Regions from separate parts of the Homo sapiens genome. Here region 1 is linked to region 2. The links come from fine-mapping of genetic effects on gene expression. Tissue or cell type: whole blood. Region 2 holds a variant in brackets; the other region holds the start of a gene. Each region is shown on its reference strand, or each on the opposite one. Region 1 holds the start of TGFB1I1 (transforming growth factor beta 1 induced transcript 1). Region 2 holds the start of TENT5C (terminal nucleotidyltransferase 5C).

What was found. PIP is the estimated chance that this variant, and not a neighbour inherited with it, causes the effect.
Region 1: it holds the start of TGFB1I1, and the variant in region 2 is fine-mapped to the expression of TGFB1I1 in whole blood (TOPMed, PIP 0.94).

Annotation. Positions count from the first base shown.
Region 1 is chr16:31,468,013-31,478,210 of GRCh38, forward strand. It overlaps TGFB1I1 (transforming growth factor beta 1 induced transcript 1), which reads left to right and starts at 4,140. Exons shown (of 11, transcript NM_001042454.3): 1 at 4,140-4,189; 2 at 5,429-5,544; 3 at 5,670-5,722; 4 at 5,823-5,965; 5 at 6,140-6,227; 6 at 6,338-6,443; 7 at 6,551-6,745; 8 at 8,000-8,173; 9 at 8,469-8,550; 10 at 8,850-8,998; 11 at 9,298-9,946. The coding sequence starts at 4,177. The coding sequence ends at 9,564. RefSeq lists enhancers at 4,479-5,019, 7,534-8,266, 8,267-8,998, 8,999-9,731 and a silencer at 9,025-9,114.
Region 2 is chr1:117,605,100-117,615,297 of GRCh38, forward strand. TENT5C (terminal nucleotidyltransferase 5C) reads left to right here and starts at 949. Exons shown (of 2, transcript NM_017709.4): 1 at 949-1,054. It overlaps TENT5C-DT (TENT5C divergent transcript), which reads right to left and starts at 671. Exons shown (of 3, transcript NR_121626.1): 1 at 547-671. RefSeq lists enhancers at 1-263, 264-764 and a silencer at 675-1,014. The variant T/G (reference allele first, on the strand shown) is at 6,256.

The DNA of each region.
Region 1 (10,198 bases), not on the chromosome of region 2:
GCCTCCAGCTCCATTCATGTTCCTGCAAAGGACGTTATTTCATTTTTTAAGGCTGTGTACTATTCCATGGTGTATATGTACCACATTTTCCTTTTTTTTTTTTAAGAGACAGGGTCTTGCTATGTTGCCCAGGCTGGTCTCAAAATCCTAAGTTCAAGCAGTTCTCCTGCCTCAGACTCCTAAAATGCTGGGATTTATAGGCACGAGCCACTGTGCCAGCCAACATTTTCTTTATTCAGTCACCCATTGATGGATACTTAGGTTGGGTCCATGACTTTGCTATTGTGAATAGTACTGCAATAAACACAATGAGTCCAGCTGTCTTTTACATGATTTCTTTTCCTGTGGGTAGATGCTCGTTAGTGGGATTTCTGAGTCAAATGATAGTTCTAGTTGTAGGTCTTTGAGAAATCTCTATGCTGTTTTCCAGAGAGGTTGAGCTAATTTACATTCCCACCAACAGTGTATAAGTATTCCTCTTTCTCCACATTCATGCCAACATCTGTTGCTCTTTTACTGTTTAATAATTGGCTTGCAGATTTTTGACTCCTCAGTGGCAGCCTGATTTTGGGGAGAGCTGCACTGGGCCTGCCAAGGTTTGCTTCTGGGCAGCTGAGGTTGGCACTTGCTGTCTCTGAGCCTCTGTGAGTGTTGGTCCAGGTCTCTGGTTTTCAGGCTATGCATTAGAACCAAGCAGTGAGCTTTGAAAAACTATTGATGCCTGGGGTCTTTTTGCTCACATTGGACTGGGCATCGGTATTTTATTTTATTTTATTTTATTTTTTGGAATCTTGTTCTGTCACCCAGGCTGGAGTGTGGTGGTACAATATTGACTCATTGCAGCCTCCGCCTCTCTGGTTCAAGCAATTCTCATGCCTCAGCCTCCCAAGTAGCTGGGATTACAGGTGCCACCATGCCCGGCTAACTTTTTTTGTATTTTTAGTAGAAATGGGGTTTCACCATGTTGGCCAGCCTGGTCTCGAACTCCTGACCTCAGGTGATCTGTCTGCCTTGGCCTCCCAAAGTGCTGGGATTACAGGCGTGAGCCACCGCGCCCAGTCAGGCCCTATCTTCAAATATAGTCACACTGAGGGTTGAACTGTGATGTATAAATGTGGGGGAGACACAAACATTCAGTCCATAACACTCCCTTTCCCCCAACCCTAGGCAATCACTAATCTACATCGTATCTCTACAGATGACCTATTCTGGACATGTCATATAAATGGAATCATACAATGTGTGATCTTTCATATCTGGCCTCTTTCATATAGCTTAATGTTATCAAGGTTCATCCACACTGTAGCATCTCATTTCTTTTTATTAGGAATAATACAGTTTCACTTTATGGATTGCTGTGGTTTGAACATGTACCCCAGAGTTCATGTGTTGGAAACTTAACCCCCAATTCAACTGTTGAGAGGTGGGAACTTTAAGAAGTGATTAGGTTATGTGGGCTCTTCCCTCATGAATGGATTAATGGCATTATTGCATGAGTAGGTTAGTTATCAAGGGAGTGGACAGCTGATAGATAAATGGATGGGTTCTGCCCCCACCCCACCCCCTCTCTTGCACTGTCTTGCCCTTCTGCTTTCTGCTGTGGGATGAGGCAGAAAGAAGGCCCTCACCAGATGCAGGGCCCTTGACCTTCGACTTCCCAACCTCTAGAACTGAAAGAAAGATATTTCTATTCTTTATAAATTATCCAGCCTTAGGCATTCTACGATGCAGCACAAAACAGACTAAGACATGGATATGCCACTTTCATTTCTTCAATCATCAGTTGACGGACATTTGGGTTGTTTCCACTCGGGCTATTATGAATAATGCTGCTATGAATACTCATGTACAAGTTTTTTTGTGGAATATGCTTTTATTTCTCTTGGTTACATATCTAGAAGGGAAATTGCTGGATCATATAACTCTATGTTTAAACATGTGAGGAACTGCCAGACCATTTTCCAAAGTTAGTGAACGATTTTACATTCCAACCAGCCATGTGTGAGGGTTCCAATCTCTCCATATCCTCACAAAAACTTGCTAATTACCTCTTTCTTTTCAGCTTTTTTTTTTTTTTTTTTTGAGTCGGAATCTCACTCTGTCACCAGGCTGGAGTGCAGTGGCACAATCTCTGCTCACTGCAACCTCTGCCTCCCGAGTTCAAGTGATTCTCCTGCCTCAGCCTCCCGAGTAGCTGGGATTACAGGTGCCTGCCACCACACCCAGCTAATTTTTGTATTTTTAGTAGAGACGGGGTTTTGCCAAGTTAACCAGGCTGGTCTCCAACTCCAGACCTCAGGTGATCCGCCCGCCTCGGCCTCCCAGAGTGTTGGGATTACAGGCGTGAACCACTGAGCCTGGCCTTTAAAATATTATCATTATTATTTGAGATGGAGTCTCGCTCTGTTGCTCAGGCTGGAGTGCAGTGGCACGATCTCAGCTCACTGCAGCCTCCACCTGCCAGGTTCAAGGGATTCTTCCGCCTCAGCCTCCCAAGTAGCTGGGACTACAGGTGCCCACCACCATGTCTGGCTAATTTTTTTGTGTGTTTTTAGTAGAGACTGTTTTCACCATGTTAGCCAGGCTGGTCTCGAACTCCTGACCTCAGGGGATCCACCCACCTCGGCCTTCCAAAGTGTTAGGATTACAGGTGTGAGCCACTGCTCCTTGCCTAATTACCTGTCTTTTTTGTTATTGCCATCCTAATAGGTATGATGTGGCATCTCATTGTAGTTTTGATTTGCATTTCTCTGGGGACTAATGATGTTGAGGATCTTTTCATGTAATCATTGGCTATTTATATAACTTCTTTGAACTGTCTATTCAGGTCGTTTGCCCATTTTTTCTTCTTTTTCTTTTTTATTCTTGACACAGGGTCTCCTCTGTTGCTCAGGAGTTCAGTGGCACAATCTCAGCTCACTGCAGCCTCTGCCTCCAGGTTTCAAGCAATTCTCCTGTCTCAGCCTCCCAAGTAGCTGGAATTACAGGCTCCCACCACCACGCACAGCTAATTTTGTGTTTTTAGTAGAGATGGGGTTTTGTCATGTTGGCCAGGCTGGTCTCGAACTCCTGACCTCAAGTGACCTGCCCGCCTTGACCTCCCAAAGTGCTAGGATTATAGGTGTGAGCCACCATGCCTGTCTCGCATTTTTAAAAAGCTCCCCAGGTTGTTCCGATTTGCTGCTGGGTTGATACTCACATTCCAGTGCTCAGATCTGTCCAGAAGAGTGGCTGCAGCACAGTTGTCTGTCCATAACTACCTCTATGGCCTCTCGTTTCCACCTCGTTTCTCAGGGTCTCAGTCCAGGGAAGGCCTTGCCACTTTGTGGCTGGAGACTGTGTCTTGCTTTCTGCTCTGAGTTCATCAGTAACTTGGGAAAGGGCTGTTTCAGAGCAGGCCTGGGCCACCTCAGTGCTGAGGAAGGGCTTTGTCTTGCAGGCTGGCTGGGGGTTGGTTGCCTGGGAGTGTTTTCCCCGAATTTGCAAGGGGCTTGCGCCCGGGTTCGAGTTTACGTGTGTCCATGACCAAGTCTTGGAGGGAAGGTCCTAGTGTAGAGTCTGTGGGTGGGTTCACTGTGTCTGTCCCCGTCCCTCAGATTTCTTTGTGTCTGGTATGTATGCCTCTTGGGGCCTCTATTTATCTGTCAGGGTCTCCGATGGGAGGGTCTCCGAACCTGAGGTCTAATTGAGCCTTAGAATATCACTCCTGCTACCAATCCAAAAATTCCGTCTGGGACAAGTCTCCCAGGAATGGCATGGGTGGGAGGGAGGCTCTTGTCTAGGACTCAGGCGCTAGCTTTGAGCGGTGTCTGTTTGGGGGCCTCAGTCCGTGTCTGTAAGTCTCCCTAGGGAGCGGCTCTGGGGCTTGGTCTGGAGAAGCCACTTCTCTCTGGCTCTGGCCTCCTGGGGCTCCCTGCAGCTGAGGCCAAGGCTGGGGTGTGGCCGCCTCCGCGGCAGGCCGGCGGGCTGGGCTCGGGTGGGCCGGGGCGCTCCCTCCTTTCCACGCCCCCACCTCGGGTTCCCCCGTTCATCGCCCCCCCATCCCCATCTCAGCGGGTCCCGGCTTCCTTACATGGTCACGGCCGGGCTTCCAGCTCCCGGACGTCCCCCGCCCCCCGCCCCCACCGGACACGGCCCCCGCCCTGTTCGCCCCGCGCCACCGGCCCGCGCCCCGCCATGGAGGACCTGGGTGAGTGGGGCCGGATCCCCGGGTCCGTGGCCCCTCACCGCTGCCCAGAGCTGCCTCCCCGCCGTCGCTCTCCCGCATCTCCCCATCCCTGTCTTCTTACTTCTGCTTTTCGCCTCTGCCCGCGCCTCCTTTCCAACTCCACGTCCCCCTTCCTGCCTCTCCCTTCCTGCCTTTCCTGGGCCGGCCGCTCCCTCCCTTCTTCCCTCGCTGTGCTCCTCCATCCCAGGCTGCGGCAGATGGAACGGGAGGTGCGGCGCCCGCGGGCGCCCGGGCGCGGGGCTCTGGGGAGGGAGGGGTTAAAGGGGCCTCGGCCCGGGGACCGGGAAAGTAGAGGGCACGGGAAAGTCTGGCATCAAGTTTTGGAGAAAAAAAGCGGGCCTGCCTGCACCAGAGTTTTGGGAGAGGAGGAGTTAAGGGCTCCTGAGCACAGTGAGGGTCAGGTCCTTGAGGCAAGGAAGAGAATAGTAACTCAGGAGTGCCTAGGCGCCCGCGAAGGCTTCAGGGTTTCACGCGGGTGCTCAGAGACGAAGACTGAGGGCAGGACTTCTGGGTTCTGGAAGTGAAAGGGCTCAAAAGACCCGGATCTGGGGATGCAGGGATGGAGAGAGGTGTCTTGTCCGGAAGGGGGACCCAGGTATCTCGTCCTCCCTGCGAAGCCTGGGGCTGGAAGGCTGTGCGCTCCACGGGAGAGAGGGGCTTCCGGCCCCTGGCGGTAGAGGGCGCTGCTCGGTAGGGGTAACTGACGCTGTACCGCAGATAAACAGCCAATCAGAAGGCAGGTCCCAGCGAAGCGCCAGTGAGGAGCCCAGGGCGGGACTCAGGGGCCTGGGAGTGGCCAGGCTGGGCGGGGCCTGTGTAGGTAGAGGGAGGAGTTAACCAGCATGGAAGAGAGAGCGTCCAATCAGAAAGCTGAGGGCCAGGCACTGGGCCAATGGAGCAATTTGGAGGGGAGCCAAATTTGGCTTGGGTGAAGAGCCCATTTTGACTGCATCAGAGAAGATGGGGAGAATAAAATAATCAGGAGGCTGGGTTTGTGCTTGGCTCCAAGCGTGAGCAACTGGGATATTCTGGTCATAAATATTCCTTGCTACCCTTCGAGCAGTGCTCTGCCTGGCTCTGGCCCTGTGACCTCTTCTCTTAATACTGGCTTCTGTCCTTCTCCAGTACTGCCCACTGGGAACCTTATCTTCTGATCTAACCGTGACCCTTGTCTCTCTCCCTGATGGCCTCTTCCTGCAGATGCCCTGCTCTCTGACCTGGAGACTACCACCTCGCACATGCCAAGGTCAGGGGCTCCCAAAGAGCGCCCTGCGGAGCCTCTCACCCCTCCCCCATCCTATGGCCACCAGCCACAGGTGAGATCGGATGTTGGGGACTGGGGCAGCCACTAGGGCCAGGCTCGGCCTGGTCTATGGGGATCTCAGCCTCAGTGGGGCAGAGTGCAGGCCTGTCATCCCACCTGTGCGTCTCCGCTCTGTAGACAGGGTCTGGGGAGTCTTCAGGAGCCTCGGGGGACAAGGACCACCTGTACAGGTGAGGGGCCTGGAAACCAGGGCATGGGGGCCAACTGAGTCTCAGGTGAGGAGGCTTGGATTCCCCACCCCTGAACCCAGGCTCCCACTCTGCTTCCCAGCACGGTATGCAAGCCTCGGTCCCCAAAGCCTGCAGCCCCGGCGGCCCCTCCATTCTCCTCTTCCAGCGGTGTCTTGGGTACCGGGCTCTGTGAGCTAGATCGGTTGCTTCAGGAACTTAATGCCACTCAGTTCAACATCACAGGTACCAGGGTGACTGAGAGAGGCCTTGATGCGATAGGGGCAGGGGAGGGAAGGGTGGGGCAGAGACTAAGAGGAATACACTTCCCAGAGTAGCAGTTAAAGGGACCTAAAGCCTCAAGTGTGAGGGTGCGTTGAGCATGGCCCTATATGTAGCGTCCTCCTCTCCTCTCTCCAGATGAAATCATGTCTCAGTTCCCATCTAGCAAGGTGGCTTCAGGAGAGCAGAAGGAGGACCAGTCTGAAGATAAGAAAAGACCCAGCCTGTGAGTTTGGCGTCGTTGTCAGGGCTGAGAGATGAGTCCTGGATATCTGAGTCACTAGAGGGAGCGTTGCTCTGGGAGGCTCTGAGATGACACAAGCATGTTCTTCACAGCCCTTCCAGCCCGTCTCCTGGCCTCCCAAAGGCTTCTGCCACCTCAGCCACTCTGGAGCTGGATAGACTGATGGCCTCACTCTCTGACTTCCGCGTTCAAAACCATGTGAGTTGGGCAGTGGGCCAGTGTCCATTTGTGGCTCCCCAACCCCTTCTAGACAATTCCACATCTGCTGCTTTGCTGACTCAATTCTCATGTCCTCCCCGCTGCAGCTTCCAGCCTCTGGGCCAACTCAGCCACCGGTGGTGAGCTCCACAAATGAGGGCTCCCCATCCCCACCAGAGCCGACTGGCAAGGGCAGCCTAGACACCATGCTGGGGCTGCTGCAGTCCGACCTCAGCCGCCGGGGTGTTCCCACCCAGGCCAAAGGCCTCTGTGGCTCCTGCAATAAACCTATTGCTGGGCAAGTAAGTGGAGCCTTGTGAGAAGGGAGGCAGAGACCTGTCACAGACCCATCTTTAGTGAGAGCTGGGCTTTATGCTGTTCCCTTTTAGTAAGTTAATCTGGGAAGTGGGTATCATTATTACTTATGTTTTATGGATGAGGAAACTGAAGCTCTGAACCACACAGCAGGTTAGTGGTAGGGTGAAAATTCCAACCATGTTACCATTTATTGTGGTCCTACTGTGTGCCAGGCACTGTGCCAGCTCCTTTACAAACCCTCATCTCATCTGATCTTCACAAAACACTCTGTGGCTCCACCCAATATCTCTCAGGCATCTACAAAGGCTCTCTCTTCCTCCGTCAGAGTCTGGACTGGGTTCACTGGTCCTTGTTTTATTGACTGAGCAGATGTGATTGACAACAGCTGTGCCTAGGGGTTAACCTAGTGCCCCCTGCTAGATCAAGTACCTGACTCCCAGCCCAGAATTGCCCATCTCAGCAAAGGAGGGTGGCATTGTGACTTTTGTGGATCATAGGCACTTTCATCTTCATGAGTCCCTTCGTCCATTAAAATAAATAGATTTTTATGTCTGTGTTGGTGTAAAGATGGGTATGTTATTATTGTGTATTACAGCATTTTCTTCTAGTTCATTTTTTTATTCTGAATTTTTAAAAACGGATTTTTCACTTCCTCCCTCTTATTTATTTTGAGGCAAATTCTCACTCTTGTGACCCAAGCTGGAGTGCAGTGGTGCGATTGTGGCTCACTGCAGCCTCGACCTTCTGGGCTCAAGTGATCCTCCCAGCTCAGCCTCCCGAGTAGCTGGGACTAAAGGCGCCCGCCACCTCGCCCAGCTAATTTTATTTATTTATTGTAGAGATGGGGCTTCGCCATGTTGCCCAGGCTGGTCTCAAACTCCTGGACTCAAGTAATCCTCCCACCTCAGCCTCCCAAATGCTAGGATTAGAGGCACGAGCCACCCAGCCTGATCGTATTTTGATTTTAAAAAAATTAAAACGTTTTTATGGGCCCCTAAATGTATTGTGGGCTCCAGGCGCTGTGCCTGCTGTGCCTCATGTATAGGTCAATCCTGGAGCGCAGCTGGAAGACGGAACACGGGAGCTAGATCTCCATCGCTTACAGGCTGCGTGATCTCGAACACTGGATTCTTTATTCTGATCGCTCAGAGAGGACTCGAAAAACGCCGCGTAAATCTTGCCTCACTGGGCATGTGGTTGTCAGAGCCGCTCTGACCCGCCTCACCTCCCACTCGCAGGTGGTGACGGCTCTGGGCCGCGCCTGGCACCCCGAGCACTTCGTTTGCGGAGGCTGTTCCACCGCCCTGGGAGGCAGCAGCTTCTTCGAGAAGGATGGAGCCCCCTTCTGCCCCGAGTGCTACTTTGAGCGCTTCTCGCCAAGATGTGGCTTCTGCAACCAGCCCATCCGACACGTGAGCCCCGCCCGGCCGCACCGAGCCCGCCCTATCTCACCAGGAGAGCTGTGGGACGGGCCTCCACCGCATGGGTCCCGCCCCACCCGCGATACCCCACTCCACCCCTACCCCTTCCCCTTGGCAATGTCCACGGCCCCTTGGACTCCACTCTTCCTTTCTGACCCCCACGTTCCTAGTTAGATCTTCTCCCCCTCCCCCCACGCATGCCTTAGTCCAGTCACCCGGGTTCCGCGCGGGAGAGGAAGGCGCGAAGGCACGGAGGCCGCGCTGAGTGCCCTCTCCCTCCCTGCAGAAGATGGTGACCGCCTTGGGCACTCACTGGCACCCAGAGCATTTCTGCTGCGTCAGTTGCGGGGAGCCCTTCGGAGATGAGGGTGAGAGTGAACTCGACTCCCATCTTAAAAGCTGCGGGTCCCCTCGACGTCTCGCCCCAGCCCCTCCGACCTCCGGAGTCCTCAGGGCCATGGTTTTCCTTCTGCTCTCTTCTGGCCCTGCCCTCTCCTACACAGACTCCGGACCCGAGCCCTCCCCGCTCTGTCCCGCCATAGACCCGGCTCCTCCTTCCCCAAGGCTCCCTCGGACTGCCCCTCCTTCGGCCCCAGATCTCAGGTCTTGTGGGTCCCCCGTCCCGCCCGCACCCTTTGCTTTCAGCCCACTCGGTTCCCTCTCCTAGGTTTCCACGAGCGCGAGGGCCGCCCCTACTGCCGCCGGGACTTCCTGCAGCTGTTCGCCCCGCGCTGCCAGGGCTGCCAGGGCCCCATCCTGGATAACTACATCTCGGCGCTCAGCGCGCTCTGGCACCCGGACTGTTTCGTCTGCAGGGTGCGAGCTGCGGGGCGGGGCGTTGGAGGGGCGGGTCAAGGGTACAGGGCTGTGGGGCGGGGCCTTGGAGGGGCGGGTCAAGGGTGCAGGGCAGGGGGCGGGCCCTCGGGGGGGCGGGTCACGGGAGGTGCTGCTAGGAACCTCGGGTGGGGCGAGTTTTCCGGGCAGGGTCCCACCGGACGGGATTCTTCGCGTCTAGGGCGGGCTGCGGGGTCCCAGGGCGTTATCCGCTAGTAACGCGCGTTGTCTGGCAGTGGCCGCTGACCTGTCTGTCCTCTTTCGCGGCTTCCCTTCCCCAGGAATGCTTCGCGCCCTTCTCGGGAGGCAGCTTTTTCGAGCACGAGGGCCGCCCGTTGTGCGAGAACCACTTCCACGCACGACGCGGCTCGCTGTGCGCCACGTGTGGCCTCCCTGTGACCGGCCGCTGCGTGTCGGCCCTGGGTCGCCGCTTCCACCCGGACCACTTCACATGCACCTTCTGCCTGCGCCCGCTCACCAAGGGGTCCTTCCAGGAGCGCGCCGGCAAGCCCTACTGCCAGCCCTGCTTCCTGAAGCTCTTCGGCTGACAGCCCGCTCGGCTCGCCCTCTCCCCCGGAGGCCGCGCCCTCCCGGAAAAGCCGGGTCCTCCAGACCCCGAGGCCTTGCTCTCAGAGCGGGAGGCCCCACCCACTGGAGAGCCCCGCCCCTAAGGTACTATGAGTCCTCAGGGGTCAAGTTCAGAAACGGCCCAGCCAGACCTAAACCCACACGCCCACAAAGTGGATTGCACACAGACAAGAACTCCCGTGCGGGCCTCCACTCTATTCCCACCCTTGAGGGAGCCCCCTTACTGGGGGAGGGTCCTTGCAATTCCAGCGAATCGGAGGCCAGGCCAGGACGTCCTTGCTCCCTGCACCCTCACTGTTCTGTGCACTTTTTCTACCTACATAAACACACGCATTCCACCTCTCCCTGGTGCTGTCTCTGAATGCGCGCAGGAGCTTGGCCCTGACTCCCCACCCCCGCGCTGGCTCTGTCCCCGGCCGTCTCTAGGTCACTGCCCTGTGGCCGCAGCGGGACCTGCAGCCTCAGCCCTTGCAGGTAGCCACTCCTGCACTTCCTACTTCAAGTATCAGATGAGCCTGAGGCTGGAAAGTGTGGCGACTCGCGCAGGACTGTACAGATAGTGGCAGAGCCAGGACAAGAGCTCCAACTGGGGCC
Region 2 (10,198 bases):
ACAGAGCTGTCCCATTGTTAGTCTTGTCCTACAGATAGGAGACGCAGGTTGTTGGAGGGTTGGTTCAGTTACTTGCCTAAGGCCTTACAGAAAGTTTAAGTGGTGCATGGAGATCTCAACTCAGATTAGTCTGAATTCAGAACCTGGGCTGTAAACCACTCGCTATGTTATGAATGGATGGTGTCCAAGCCCTGCCTGCATGTTATATAACACACTGGACCAAGTGCTGTGGCATTCCGAATGGGGCCGAAGCGGCTGCGGCTGCCGACATTGGCGATGGACTCCCCGAGGCCCTTCGTCCCACTAACTGCACACAGGTGGTCCCCGGGGCCAGAGAGCCGCCGGCGCTCTCTCCCCGAAGACCACGCCTTCGCCTCCAGCCAGTTTGCTTGGGGAATCAGAAAGGTGCCCAGGGCCCAGAAACCATTAAGTTTTTTCCGACTTCAAAAACACACACCGGAGGTAGGCGTGGGCGTTACCCGCCTCACTCCTGGGGGCAGGGAGAACCAACGCGAAAATCCCCAGAGAGGCGGAAGAAAAACCTGCCTGCGAGAGAATAGGATGGAGATGGGAAAAGCCTGGGGAAGAGAGAGTTATGCGGCAGGAATAGCAGAAAAGCGTACTAAGCAAAAAGAAAGGTGTCCCACTAACTCCGAAGTTAAGTGGGTGTCGACGCAGCCCCCTCTATTGCGCTTGCGCAGTGCTGCCTCCCTGAGCACCCCGCCCCTTCCCGCCGCTGAGGATTTACTCGTCTCTTGGCAACCATTCACCCGAAGAGCCAATCAGAGGGCAGCCCTCGCCCCGCCCCTGCCGTCAGGGCCGGGCGGAAGGGTCCCGAGGGGACTGGCTCCGCCACGCCCCGCCCCTGGCTCCCCCGGGAGGGCGGCTCAGGGGCGGGGACGGGGGCGTGGTCCCGCCGTATAAGAACGGAGGGGGCGGCGGCGGGACGGCTCACTCGGTGCCGCTGCCTAGGGGCTGTAGAGGTCGCGCCGCTCCTGCTGGGGCCTGCCCACGCCAAGGACCTGCCTCTGTCGCCTCCTCTTCTATTGCCCAGGTGAGTCCGCGACCCCCCTCCTCTAAAGGTGCGGCGATGCGGCAGCAGCCCCAGGGAGCCGCGAGCTCACTTAGTGGGGGTCCGCCCCCACTAAGTGGTGCTCAGGTCTTTGCCCAGCCTGGTAGGGGGCAGGCGGACCCGAGGGGAGCTGCGGACAGGTGCCGAGACCCGGTGCTCCTTTCCCCTCCTGCTCCCTCGAGGACCCCCGCCCCTGACACACCCGTCCCAAAGGGCCAGAAGAGACGCTCCGAAAGGGAGCTACAACTTTCCAGAGACCTGGGGCTTGGCAAACTCCAGCGAGTTCCTGCTCCGCGCGTCCTGCAGGCTGCGCGCTGGCCAGGCGCGGGCAGGGCGTCTGAAGAGTGTGTGATCGGCGCCTCCGCTCCTACCTGGATCAGACGGCGCCCCCCGCCACCCATGCCTCCCTTCCTGGCTTGCAGTCCCTCGGGCTCGCCCCGGCGCTCCCGCGGGCGCGCACACCTTCGCCGGCCCGCCGAGTGTGAATTCGAATTCGGCGGTTTCACTAGGCGCAGCTGGAGACGCAGCGGTCCGGGGCTTGGATCTGGTTGGGGAGGGGAGGGGCGCTTCCTAGGCTCATTGCCAAGTCCTGAGTTTTAAGGAGAAGGGCGGAGATCCTTAAATTTAATGCGCTCACATCAGACTGTGGACACCATGAGCAGCAAAGGGATCCAAGCCAGTGACTTGTGCGCTGCGCGTCTCTCAGAAACTTCTTGGGAATGCGGTGTCTGTGAAACCTGCTTCCTCTCCTTTTGAAAATGAAACTTGCTTTACTGCGTAGGTGAAAAGCCACGGCAAGTGGGTCGACTCGGACGGATACCGGTGCGGCTGCCCCGGGAGGTGTCGCAGTTCGGGGACTCCCTTCGCACTGGTCGCGAGGCAGGAGGGAGCAGGGTGGGAGGCGAGTCAGAGGAGGGTGACTTACCTGAAGAATACAGGTTGGTAGCCTGCACACCTGAACTCAACGCTGGCGGGCGAGAAAACCAAGCAGCGCTACCTCCAAGTAAGGGCGCTCCCCTGGAGAAATGAATGCCTGGCGAGCTTCTGGAGAACCCACTATTAGGGCTGGACCCTGCGGGAGGGATAGTGTCAGCTCCCTTCCCCTTCGCCCTTTTTTGTCCATAGGTAGGCTTTTGTAGGGCTCTAACCAGTTCCCTGGCTTAATTAAGTAGGGGCCTGCTTCCTTTTTAACATTTTTGCTTTCTTACGGAGATATAAAGTGCATACAAATGAAGTGCTTAAAATGCACTTATAGTAAGAAAGCTTTTATAAATACTATGTGCATAATTATTTGTATTGTGACAACTTGGTCTTCAGGTTACTTTGTAGGTGGGTTAGGAGACTGAACCAGCCCAGGAAATAAAGTTAGGGTGATTAGATCCTCCCAAAGTACACTTCTGGCTGGCTCAGCTGCCCTCTGCGTGCAGGAAAGAGGGTGACCGTTGTTGGCGACAGCAACCTTTCAACGTGAGTAAATTGGCAAGGAAATGAGCCCAGGAAGTAAGTTGGGCAGCCGCAAGAGTGGTAGGAGAGCTTACCCAGAATTTTACTGTCTTAAATCCCCAAGGGTATTATTGAGGGTGTGAGACCAGCCACGTTAGGCCCTGCAGTGGAAAAGGGGGAGGGGGATGGGGAGTAAAGAATGCTGACTTTTCTCTGGGCTTTTAGGGAAACCTCTGAGCTGGGCTGCAGGGGTTCTGTCCTTTGACATTCTTGTTTGTGAAGATGGAAAATGATCTCTGGAGTCAAGCTTAGTTTATTTCAGATAATGAACTTTTTCTCTTAAGGTATACCCATAGCTTTAGAGTACATATATTCTCAATAAAGAGTTTTTAGGAAGATTTTGGTATATTGTATATAATTGTTCAGGTAGCTATGCGGGGGTAGGGGGCTCCCATAACAAAGTTTAAAAAAAAAAAAAAACTCTGCCAGGAGGCCTCTAAATTGTTACCAAAACAAAGATCCCTAATTTCATAAGCAGCTTCAGTGAGCACATAGAATTAACAGCCATATTTCTTACGCTGTTTTTTCCACAATACCTACCTTGTATCCAGGGATTAAATTCATGTAATTCTGAAGGAAAGGATTTGGCTCTTAGCCTGCTTGTCAGAGTGAGCATGACTTAGTTGTGCACCTGTGGCTATCTCTACCTGGTTTCTTCTCTTGTACCGTGAGCACAAGTAGCCACTGAAATCTCCCGAGTTCCAGAGGCCCGTCCCCCCTCAGCTGTATCTCCCCATAGTGCACACATTCAGCCCACATTCCCCCGTGTTCAAGGCCAGGGCAGATCATGCACATCTTGCGCTGCCGGTCAGAGAACAGAATTCCTCATATTTCTGAAAGTCCAAGGAACAGTGCAGCAGTAAAAATAACTTAAAAGTGGGCTGTAGTGCTCTTGTTTTCACAGTACCATTAACCAGACACATTTGATAGAAAATTTAAAAACTTCATTTAAAAAACTTTTTTTGTTGTTTTTACTGCTCAAGTACATAGGACCTTGTCTTCATCTTTTGTCTCTGATCAATGTTGTGTTCATGGAGTTACCTACTAAAGAAATGGAAACCCAAAGGCTCTCAGTGGATGAGTTGAACCTTTTTTTTTTTTTTTTGCATTACTGAGAGAAGTCGTGGAAGCCCAAAACTAGTTTCATGAGTTAAGCTAAACTTATGTTTTGGGGTTTCTTGGTTTCACACCTGTCTCTGGGTGTATCTGCTATTTTGTGTGCATGTGTGTGTGTTTAGGAGTTAAGGAGTAATGTGGAATGTGAGGTTACTTGGAATAAAACATTACTTGGGTTAGATAAGGTCTGTTGCTTTTTGTGTTGTCATTGAGGTAAACAAGGCACTGTAGGAAAATGCTTCCTGCCATCTTGGTGTTTTGACTATAGTACATTAAAATGGCATAAATTGTATTACAATGAAGCAGACACCTCTGTGTTTAAAGAAATGTTCATGTGTTTAAAGCTGCTTGGGTACATTAGTACTGCTGATTTCTTGTGATGTTTTCAGGCCATAAGATCTCTCAAAACGTTTTTACGCTTTCATTGCAGGCCGCATAAAGAGGCTTGCATTTGGAATTCAAATAGTTTAGAGGAAGCATCTTTATATAGTTCAACTAGGTAAGGAAGCCTTAAGAATTGTTCAGAATTAATAGATTTTGTACAGCTGGCCCCCACAGTCTGTTCTAGAACTGTTTGAAAACTTCTTGGAACAACAGAAAAAAAATATGAAAAAATAATTGCTGATGTTAAGCAACTCTCTCCCTGTAGGATGTTTTTTAGTGTCGGAGCTTGAGACTAAAGTCTTGGAGTCTTGGTCACAAAACTGCATGGAGTGTTGTTTATTTCTTGGAGAACCGTGATTGAGTCAGTAAGTAGTTAAGTGCTTCCTAGGCAGTAGCTAGTGCCAGGTGCTGAGGACGCCAAGGCAGTGGTGTTTGGAAATGCCTTTGGAAGAGCTCTGGATGCGAGAGGAGCTGGGCTGGCTTTATCATGCAGTCGAGGCACTCCGATTTCTCTCATTAGTCTCAGCCACTGGCATATGAGCGCCGGAAAGCGGAATCTGTGCTCACTGCTGACTCCCCAGTGCCTGCTTATAGAGCTGGCCTGGCACACAGAAGGTGTTCTGTCATTTGGATACATGTTCGGTTGGCGGCTTGCAAAGAGGGAGGCGTACTTGAAGTGGGAGTTCTCTTGGTGGACCGAGGCAGGCAGGCCAATGGCTGAGTCCTCTTTTAAGTAGAGGCCACAGGGGTATAGGTTTGGAGCTGAGGGGCAGTGACTAGCTAATTGACCAACAGCTGAAACTCCTCAAGCTGAGCTCCAGACCCACTCCCTTAAGCACTTGCCATCCTTCCCACCCTCCCTGACACCAGCCTCACATGGCTCACTCAGCCTTTTCTCTCTCTCTGTTCACTCAGTTGCTAGTTCTGCTGATTCTTTCTCTTTTTTATTGTTTCCCACTGTCATCACTGACCTGGTTTAGGGGCCCGTAGACAGGAACTTGATGAGGGCAGTAAGTGAGTCCGCCTCCCCTGCCTCTGGCTAGTTCTACAGTCTGTGCATTTGGAACTCCATCCAAGCGCACAGGGACTGCCTGCACCTCTGGAAGCTGAACCTCCTCTTCAAGACCGTGCCTTTCTGACTCTTTACTCTTGACCCACCCTCCACCCCCCATGGCAGAGTCTCCCTAACTGCCCTTCTTTGCCTCACAGAACAGATACTCATATCTGCACAAAGGAATGATACTCCTTTCTCACCAAACTTTGAATCCAGCTTCAGGCCCTTCCCACAGGCTTCTGACTGACATTATTCCATCTGGGGACCCGCTCTTTTCACACCTCGATTCATTAATACTTTGTTGTTGTTTGTTCTTTTGAGACGGAGTCTTACTCTGTCGCCAGGCTGGAGTGCAGTAGCACGATCTCTGCTCACTGCAACCTCCACCTCGTGGGTTCAAGCGATCCTCCTACCTCAGCCTCCTGAATAGCTGGGACTACAGGTGCACACCACCACACCCAGCTAATTTTTTGTATTTTTAGTAGAGATGGGGTTTCACCATGTTGGCCATGATGGTCTTGGTCTCTTGACCTCGTGATCTGCCTGCCTCAGCCTCTCAAAATGCTGGGATTACAGGTGTGAGCCACCATGCCCGGCCAATACTTTCTTACAGTTCTTCCTTCTACCTTCTTTTCTAGTTCTTAAATTTTTATCTTTGATTGAATAAGCACAAAGTCCCATACTGTTACCATACTTAGCCTCCTATAAAAACATTTTGAGAAGAAAATTATCCATGAAACTGCAACTGCCCACACCCTCTTCCGTTGCCGTAAGCATCTCTCAACTTGTTTAGCCCTTATGAAGATAGAAGAGGTAACCCTCCACCTTTCCTGGCTGCTTGCCCCTGATCCCCAAACACACTCTGTCCATCGTTGCCCTCTGCTCGTCGTAGTTAGAGATGGGCATTAGGATCTCCACAGCTAGCCAGTGCTATATGGACTTGGGCAGTTTCAATCGTCATTCCTGTGGAATAACTGCAGCACAGCAGTAGCAGAAAGAGGACTGATCCAGAAGCAGAGATGACGCGTACACTCATCAAGTGCCTGATATGTGTCTAGAGGCTTGCTCACAGCTGCTCAGCTAGAGCTAGCACCGCTGCTATCTCCTGTGCCCAGGCTGTTTGTCA[T/G]CTTTTTACCTCCTCTGCTTCTGAGGCTGACTTTAGCTGTGGGGAGACCTGGGCTCTGGTCCTGGCAGAGCCTTTACCTCTTCAGCCTTCAGCTTCTTCATTATAATAAGGACAATAAATTAGATCAGTGCTTTCCAGTAAAAATATGAGAGACACGATTAACTTCCTAGTAGTCCCATTAAAGAGTAGAAGTAGGTGAAATTTGGCCAGGGGCAGTGACTCACAGCTGTAACCTCAGGACTTTGGGAGGCTGAGGCAGGAGGATCCCTTGAGTCCAGGAGTTCCAGACCAGCCTGTATGACACAGCAAGACCCCATCTATATAAAAACAATTTTTTAAAAAATTAGCTGGGTGTGGTGGCACGTGCCTGTGGTACCAGCTACTCAGGAGGCTGAGGCAGGAGAATTGCTTGAGCCCAGGAAGTCAAGGCTGCAGTGAGCTGCCATCGAACCACGGCACTGCAGCCTTGGCAATAGGGTGAGACCCTGTATCAAAAAAAAGTGAAATTCATTTTAATAAGTGTATTTAATCTACCATATCAAATTTCATCATTTCAGTATGTAATCAATATAAAAAATCTAAATGAGATAGTTTACATTCCTTTTATCATACTGAGACCTTGATATCCAGTATGTGTTTTAGCATTTACAGCGGTACCTACTGTATTGGGCAGCACAAGTCTAGACCATCAGCAAAAATGTTTCACTCTCAAGTTCTGATTCTGCATGTGTGGGAGGCAAGATTTAACAACCCAAAGTTATGGAAGGAGAGTAGGAAGCAGGATATCAGCTCCACAGGGCCAGGGATCTTTGTCTCTTTCTTCCCAGTGCATCACAAGCTCCTGGAGCAGTGCTTGAAACATAGTAGGCATGCACATTTTTGAAAGAGTGAAAGGAAAGTCAGTTATGGCCAACTTACTGACAGTCATTCACACTGTGCGTCAGACTTGACACTAAAACACATGGTGTTGGATTCCTAGCCCGGTGCTCATTCTTTTTTTTTTTTTTTATAGTTTCTTAGAGAATAATCATAAGGCAATAGAATTTCAAGGAACTGCTGATAAAATCTTCTGAGACTGGCAGGGGACCAGGACTCAGTTTATCAACAATTAAGTTTTATCAACAATTAAAATTTGAGTGAAATTGCAAGAGGAAGTAACATTCAAGTCAAGTCAAAGTGTTTGAGCTGTCTGGTGACAGCACATTAATTACTTGATGAACGCTAAACATGAGCTGCTGCTATGCGCAGTACCTGGAGGCCCGGAACCTGCAACTTGAATGCCAACTCCTAAGGGAAGGATCCATGCAAAACAAAAACCTGGATGGAACTATGCACGTAATTAGCATCTGCTCTGAAATGGAGGTCAGCTCACACTTAGACACTTGTGAATGGGGTGTGTTTATGGTCTAACGTATGATAAGGGTGGCATTTGAGGAACTAAGAGTTGCTTGTCCCTTTCCTGATAAGGCCTGGGCAGGGAAGCTGCTAGTGATTAGACAGGACTTTTAGCTGACTGAGGTCTTCCTTTTGGACAACTGTTTAAAGCTGTAGGCTGGAGAGTTAGATGGTAAAGTAGCCTGTGGAAGCAGCCTTTGATGAAACCCGGAGGCTGTCAGCTCTTAAACCCTGTGGATTACGTGTAAGCTGAGTCATTCTTACAGTAAGCAGTCTCCTCCTTAGGAATCATCTCATTTTTCTCAGTCTGGGCAATCTCTAAAACAGAAAGGCAGGCTCTCTTTGGGGAGCTCTTTAAATGAATTCAGACCAGTAACACCTCTGATCTAGAAAGAAGCAGTTGATGGTGGGAAGGTGGTTACCAAGTAGCAACAAGGATTATTTCCATTTCAAGTTGTGTGTGTAGCACTTAATGCTGACACCTTGGAAAAAAATCAAGGCTTTTATGCCCTGCTTCCATCTGAAGATGTCTGTGTCCTGACCTTGTTAATATTTCCATTTGCAACCACGTCAGAGTATACCTTTCAACACTTGAACTTGTGTGGCATCCCTGCTGTAATATCTAGGCCAGTGTTTTGATTCTGTTTGCTGTTTTGCGGCCACAGCATTAGTTCTTCCAGCGTTATCTCTCCACCCACACTTGCCCAAGCATCCTATTTTCAAAGGTGGGAAAGAGCTTTCTGTTTGGAGTTGTCGTTGGTGGGTGTCTATGGATGGAGCCCAGTGATAACCATTCAGACTGTGTGTTGGCTTCTCACTTCTTAGTGGGAAGTGAGAATTCATGGAGGCCCCTTAAACAGCGGAGATCACAGCCTGGTTCTGTGGCCTGCCTGGGTTTCAGTCCAGGGCTGCTTTCCACAGCTCATGTGGGAATCTAACCACATTTTTTGACTCTAGTAAACATCATTGGTAAATGGCTGGAGGATGATAATAACCTTAAGAAAATAGAATGAGACGCTGGCTGAATGCAATGGAGCTGAGAGTGAGAAAAGACCAACTGTGGGGTTTGTTGCGTCACTGACTTAGAAATGTTTTCTCTGGGCACAGCTTTGTGGCCTGGGGCAGTTACTTCTTTGAACTCAGGTAGAATGTGTTGCGGGCATTTAAGTGGGCAACTGTAAAAATAACATCTTGGAAAAATAGTGAGCATAGGATATATTTTATTGGCCTTTTAAAAAGTAAAGCATTATTTTATCTGTTTTTATTGCTTCAGGCCATTCATAATCTAAGCTGCTATTCCATGTACATGAAACACTCGAGTGTCTGTTATCTGTAACTTTCATGTGTTTGGGGCTGTGGAGGAGTCTCCAGAATGTGGCCCCCTCCCTATGTGGGGGGTCTGGCCCTAGGGAGGAGCTGGCAGACAAAAGCCTTCCTTAGACTGCCTCCAAACCCTTCCTAGATAACTTCTGGCCTTCATCCCCCAAGGAATTCAAGGAGTAAGAGAGGAGGATTTTTTTCAGAAGGCCATATCCATGTTGACCCTGGTTTTTCTCGTTTCTGCCCGGTTATCTGCTGCTGCACATGCCAAGCAAAATGACCAAGGTCCATGGTCATTCGAAGCGCCTGGCTCTTTTCTTATGGGTGAAAGAATCTCAAGGGTCAAACTACATGCAGGTGGGGGAAGTGACGGTGTCCAGTCTCAGGTTCAGCATTCATGAGGTCCTGTGTACGTTCCAGACTTTCTGCTTTCAGTTTTGTTCCAGCTCTCCTTCCTGGGCTGGCCCTTTAAGTCCTGGTCACTGCCTGCAAATTTATCAGCCATTTCTCTGTAGCTCCAGTTGGGTTATTGGCTTCTTTGATCTGAGAAGGTTGCCGTCTCGACTGTAGCTAGTGTCCTGTTCTGTTGCTTCATCAGCCTATCAACACTCTGATCTCCCAGCCATCAGAGGAGTCTCAGTAATTGTTCCTTTATTCCATGAGCAAAGCAGCATGCCTTAGTTTTCTGGATCAGGATCAGCCCATTCCTGATAATCTCCCTCCTGTGCCATTAATTTTTCCTCTTATTACTAGTTCAGCAAGGCGACTGTGCAGCACCTTCCACTCTTGGGTTCTCTCTCTCTTCTGGACTTGGTTTCTCTAAAATCACCACTGTTCTGCAACGTAGCAAGCATCTTGGAGCTCCCTGGGAAGTTAGGATCCTAGGCCTTCATCTCCCAGCCATTGTTCCTTTAAAACAAACAGTAGCATAACGATTAGCATTTCTACACTTAATCACATTCAGTTCTGGTGGCTCCAGCCTGCAGTTTCTATGCTGACAGTTGTTAGATACTTCAGTTCTAAATGCTTCTCCCTTGCTTTCAGAATTTGCCATCTGGCCTTACCTCACTCAGGTGGCCTTAGCGGTCTAGCCAAACTTCTTTCCTACCATCTTATTTTTTAAAAATCTTTATACCTTCCTTCCTTTTCTTTCTACTTACTGTCATCTCCTTCCTCTGACCATCTAAGCACAACCAGCTCTTCTTCAAGCTCCCTGCCCCACCAAAGC